2 separate regions of the Homo sapiens genome follow, and region 2 is linked to region 1. The links come from fine-mapping of genetic effects on gene expression. A gene starts in region 1. The other region holds a variant in brackets. All regions are shown on one strand. Distances are from middle to middle.

What was found. PIP is the estimated chance that this variant, and not a neighbour inherited with it, causes the effect. A credible set is the group of variants that fine-mapping cannot tell apart.
Region 2: its variant is the best candidate, but not a certain one, in a credible set for the expression of PCTP in whole blood (TOPMed, PIP 0.88).

The regions. Positions count from the first base shown.
Region 1 is chr17:55,749,448-55,752,360 of GRCh38, forward strand. PCTP (phosphatidylcholine transfer protein) reads left to right here and starts at 1,604. Exons shown (of 6, transcript NM_021213.4): 1 at 1,604-1,797. The coding sequence starts at 1,657. RefSeq lists a silencer at 1,402-1,741.
Region 2 is chr17:55,587,689-55,590,601 of GRCh38, forward strand. LOC102724732 (a long non-coding RNA gene) reads right to left here and starts at 2,115. Exons shown (of 3, transcript XR_429997.4): 1 at 1,919-2,115. The variant G/A (reference allele first, on the strand shown) is at 1,299.

The sequences.
Region 1 (2,913 bases):
TATTCTTTCATTAACTGTAATAAAATAACTGAGTGTAAATCTCAGCATATTCAAGGATATATTTATTTTTCTCCTGAGTTTATTAGGCAACACACTTTTAAACACATACAATAAATACAATTTGAAGTGCGTGCTTTATATCTTGCATGATGTCGTTTGTGTTCTTATGCTTGTCTCCATTAGTCTATTGCCATATAGTAATAAAGCTTTATCAAATCAAACCTTTATAATGGATTCCTTGAAGATACTTGAAAATACTTCATAGCCAATAGTTTTTACACAATTGGTTTTTCAAGCAATGAATTTCCATTTAAATAAAATATGGATTTACAATACATAGAAAATTTACAAGGAGTTATAAAACAGTGGGAAAGTATGTCTAGCCTAAACTTTTGTGCATTTAGTCTAGGAAAATTTCACATCCCTCTTTCCACACCTATAAAGCCAAACAGAACCAGGACTGACTTGAGGAAAGCAATTATTTATCTCTGCTGTGTCTAACTAAGCAAGCTGCCAAATGTGATCATTTGCCTGATTGGAAAATCACATAAATTAAGACTTTGCCATCAACTTTCTTTCAAGTAAGGAAAGAAAAGCATTTCAATATAGTAATGCAAAACAAGTGGAAATTGTTATTGAACATTTACTTGGACGGGCACTGTGGAAAATTATTCCTTGTCCAACCACCTCCTCAGCTGTAACTGGTAGCACAATTCTTGACCCATTTTACAGATTAGGAAACATGAGTTTCCAGAGTTTATTGGCACTCACGTGGCTGTTACATCGTTTTGATGTTCAAACGACCTACTTTATTCAAAGTCAGGTAGTACAGTCTGCTGGTGGGAAATACAGTATTACTCAAGGGACTTCAAAGGAACAAGAAGATGTTTGAGTTGCACAGTGAGCTAAATTATGCAAGTTGCAGAAATCCTAGGTGGATAGTACGACACCTTTCAGATCAGTTTCTACCCTCAAGGGTGGCAACAACCTTGTAGATCCATTATGGATTAGGTTTCTAAACTGTTTTGGTGTTATGAACCCCTAGAGTCTTCTGGGGAATCCAATGGACCTCGTCTCAGAATAATGTTTTACAATGTATAGCAGAAAGAAGAGAAATTATATTGAAATACACTTCTGGCATTTGACCCCTTAGGATTTTTCCAGCATTTCTACTCTGCCCACCTCTCCTCTCATGTCTACCAAAGAGACTTTCTCTACTTTATTCAGAAAGGTAAATGAGAGACACTCAAACAGGTCTGTAGGTTATGGGAGTAGCAGGGAGTATGGGATAGGCTACTGAGGAGCTGTTTTTGAGGTGACATCACTGTCTCCCTTCCTTTTTCCCTTCCCTCTGGAAGCCTCCTTACTTCTCCAGCTCTTCCTTCCTTCCCCACATCAAGTCCAATTTTTCTCCTTTTACTTCTTGTCTATCCTCCTCACTCCTTGCTCAGCCCCGCCCGCTTTTCTAGGCCCGCCCCTCCAGGGCCCCACCCTCAGGCCGCTCCTCCAGTCTAGGCCCCGCCTTCTCCTCAGTTTCCTGCCAATGACGCTGGGGCAGCCGGGGCAGCCGGGGCAGCCCGGTCACCCCGCCCCCAGGCCCACACTAAGGGTGTCCGCGGCCTGCCCTCCAGGCGGAGGAGCCCGGACTGCGGAAGGATGGAGCTGGCCGCCGGAAGCTTCTCGGAGGAGCAGTTCTGGGAGGCCTGCGCCGAGCTCCAGCAGCCCGCTCTGGCCGGGGCCGACTGGCAGCTCCTAGTGGAGACCTCGGGCATCAGCATCTACCGGCTGCTGGACAAGGTAGCGGCCAACCCGCTGGAGGACCGCGGGGCCTAGAATGCGCCGGGGTCGACCTCCCCGCAGGGAGTGCGGGGCGGCAGTCGCGGAAGGGACAGGGGCGCGTCTTCTCCGGCTCAGGAAGGAGCTCCGCCCGGACCCTGTCTCAAGCTCTGGAGCTAGCGCAGGGGCGGTGCCTCCAAGTGACTGCCGTGCAGATCCAGGGGAGTTGGAAGGTCACAGGAGTTCAGCCTCAGGTCAGGCCCGACGGGGCATGTAGTTAGAAGTTAATGACAGTTGAAACGTGGGTCAGCTGGTTCCTAGGCCCGTGCACACGTCTGCAAGGGACGTTGATCCTCACTCTCCAATGCGTGTCAGTGGCATATGGGGGCTGGGGTGGGGGAGGGGCGGTATCTTAGGGCTTGGATATAGGAGGAAAAGAAACAGAACTTTTCAAGGACTGGATGTGCAGGGTGGTGTCAGGGGTTGCCGAGAAGGGCCCTACTGTTTTAGTGACTCGTTTCTTTTGGTTGTTGCCCCTTCCTTCCAAGTTGCTCTTAATAAGTTGAGTCCGAATCTTCAGGCAGGAGTAAAGATGTAGGAGGAATGGGATTGGTTGTTGAAGTCTTTGGAATCAGGTAGCCATCCAGGTGGAAGGCATTGCCCCTGAGGCCTGTCATCCAAGGCTTGTCATCAGTTGCTTTGTGTAATAGTCGCAGCATGGCAAGTAGGTTAAAAGTCGCCTGCAGGTAATGTGGGTGAAACTGAAGTTTCCTAATACAGGACCAGGATATTATAGTGTTAGAGTTAGGAGGATACCTCATGCTCACCTGGTTAAACCCCAGGTTTCATAGGTGAAAGCAACAGGCCTCAAGGGTGAAGTCACTCCTGAAATGGCCCAGATAAGTGAATAGCAGAGGTGGGATTGGAGGGTTCATGATCTTGTGAATGTCAAACATGTGGTTGCCTTTTTAGGCACTTGCATTTTTGTTTACATCAAATATAGTGTTTTTATATTTTAAAACAGAAAACAAACGTTTGCAATATTTAGAAGTTGCTCACCTGTTAAACAGGAATGAAAACTCTGCCTGTCTCATTGCAGGAATGAAAACTCTGCCTGTCTCATTGCAGGGTTGTTAG
Region 2 (2,913 bases), 160 kb before region 1:
AGCAGTGATTGACGTCACAGACGGAGTGTCTCAGAGTAATGTGCTCCGCTCCCCTCATTTATATGTTTGACCCTAACCTTTCCCAGATGTGCAACTGTTCTTCCTTCCAAAAAGGGGCTTTCAACACTGGGCATTGTGTGCTCTCTGAATCCAGCCCTGCAGCAAAAACAAAAGTCCAAGTTCCTGAGTTTTGGAACTGGACTTGTGAGTTGGAGTATCTCTGGACTGTTTGGTGTCCCCTCTGGAAGCTCGTATAATGGGGTTTCTGTGCTTATGTGCTTGTGATCTCATGCCTCGAGCTGCTCCTTAGTATCTGGCTGGCCGCCTCTCTTTGGCCACGAAGAGGTGGGAGTACGACAAGGCACAAACAAGGTCTTTTATGATCTGGTTCCAGCCTACTCCTCCACTCCTGCCTGAACTCCTCCCATTCCCTGGTTCGAGGCACAGATATGATTTGCCATTGTACTAAGACGTCTTGGTGACCCATGGTCCTGTGGCTTTCCCTACCTTGTTTAGGCTACTCTCTTACCCAATTCTCTCTCTTTGATTTGGTGGACACCAAGTCCTCATTCAGTTAGGAAGGTAGTGCAAACTTCCTCTATTCCTGGAAGTTTTTTCTAACTCCCTTCCCTGTCCCCTCCTAGTTTGAATTGGCTGCTTGCTTTGTAACTCTCCAGCGCTGCTTTGCAAGAATCTTCACCTTAACCTCTTCACTATTGGTGTGTTTACCTCTCTCTGCTTTATGTTTGAGTTAGTTGTTCATGTGTCTGTTTCTCTAACTCAGTTGTAAGCCTTTTAAGAGCAAGGACCAGATCTTGCCCATCTTTGAACCTCCAGCATTTAGTACTTAGCCTGGTATGTAACAGGTATTCAGTAAATATTTGTTGAATGAATTCATGAATATTGCCAAGGAAATGAGGATGATGATGTAACATAAGTTATGTACAGTGTCTTGATGGCCTTGGAAGGGTTAGTATTAACAAAACATCAAGACTTGTTACCTCTAATGAAGAACAGCATAGGAAAATAAACATTAAATTTATACAATAGGGACAATTACTGCTGCTATTACAGGTCCCTGTTACTTCCTAAGTACTTAACTGATATTATCTCATTTTCTTCTTACCACATCCCTTTTCCAAGTGGCATGTGGATTTTATAATTATTGTTTATATTATTTCAAGTTTCTTGACAACATGATTTTGTAGCCTGCAGTGGAGACGTGTTCCAAGACCTCTCAACCCTTTGGAAAGCCCTAAATCCTTTTGCTGCAAAGCAAGTATACTATCTATTACAAC[G/A]CAGCTAAACAAAGGATTATGGCTTCAAAAATCCCTCTGTGCTTTTTACATGAAAATCAAACTTCCCTTCCCCTGTGCACTTGGAGTTACCAGCCCTCCTTTCCCCAAATGTAAGACTTCTGATGTAAGGCCAGATTCATGGAGGGAGAGCAGAGGCCAACAGCTGGGTTTAATTAGTATGCTTTTGCCCTCGTATCTTGAAAAACCTATGCTCCACACTAGGCTTTCATTTGAGAGAAAGGGAACTCGAGTTGTAACAAAATCTCCAAATGCAGAAGAAATGAAGAGAGGGCTGAGGAAGCATTTGCACCAACTTGCCTTCCTATGATCTGACTTTGGTCTATCTACTCATTATATGGTCCTCTCTCCCCTCCTCCTCAAGGAATCTGACTCCAGTTGTACAGAACTCAAAGAAAGCAGAGGAAGTCTTGATGCTGTTGCTTTAAACCACCAGGAGGCAAATATCTCTTTTCTAGTGATGTAAAGATGATTTCAGGACTTATTGTAGTCAGAGGGCTAGAGGCTCCAAGGTATCTACTTACTACCATTTTCAATTAGTGGAGTTGGGATAGAGAAAAAAGGAGTGGATAAGAGGGAGAGAAAAAGAAAAGTCCACTTACCTGACCTCCCCCTGGAATCTGGTGATCTGACCATTGCCAGAAATGGTAATGTCTTCCTATAGTGAAAATTTTTCAGCTTCCCACTGAAAGATGTCTACAGATGTCCATAGCAATGTTCAAATTGTTGCCTCTCTTTATAGATAAGTAGACCTGCATGTTAGCAGAGTTAAGGGCTAAGTGGATTAGGCCCTTCAGAATTGTTCAGAATTCATAACTATGTAAGATAATTTATAAATTATGTAATTAATGCTAAAACCAGTCCTTAAATATTTTGGTTTCCTTTTTTTCTATGCAAGCCTCCTTAACAACTATGTTCACTGAAACAGGATAAAGTGGCTTTCTAGTGTTATGGGGATTTTCCCAAGGAAGCTGTGAATTTATGAAGCTGGGAGCTCTGTAGGAAATTAATATTTTGAATCAGGAACAAAAGATGTGTGTTTTTCCAGAGTTATGGTGGCTAGGAATGTGAAGATTACACTCTCCCTTGTAATTTCAAACTCTTTGTTATTTTCTTTAAATGTAATAATGTTGGACATAGAACTTTAGCTTATGAAAGCTTTAAAATCATAGGATAAGACTTCCATCCACTTAAACTTTGGTTGACTGATATTTCCAAGTAGATAAAGCTGAAAGAATGATGGGAAAAAGTAAAAATAATCCTCAGCCAAATCAGATAGAGGGACAAGAGGAGAGAAGGGAAAAGAGCAAAACACAAACCTAACACACCAAAAAGGAGGGAGGAAACCTGGGAAAGTGAAGCTATCCCGATTACTTCCCCAGTCAGGAAATTATTGCTTAGTTAATTTAATGGGTACAGGGAAGAGCGAAGTCAACACACTATGGTCCAGATGAGAGATTTAACTCCCACTTGCAAAAAAAAAAAAAAAAAAAAAAAAAAAAAAGAAACATTCCACTCCAATGACAGTGGATAGGGAAGAATAATAAAACTTAGTAGTGATGTTTTAGGGATTATGATCTACTGAATTACTGTTTCT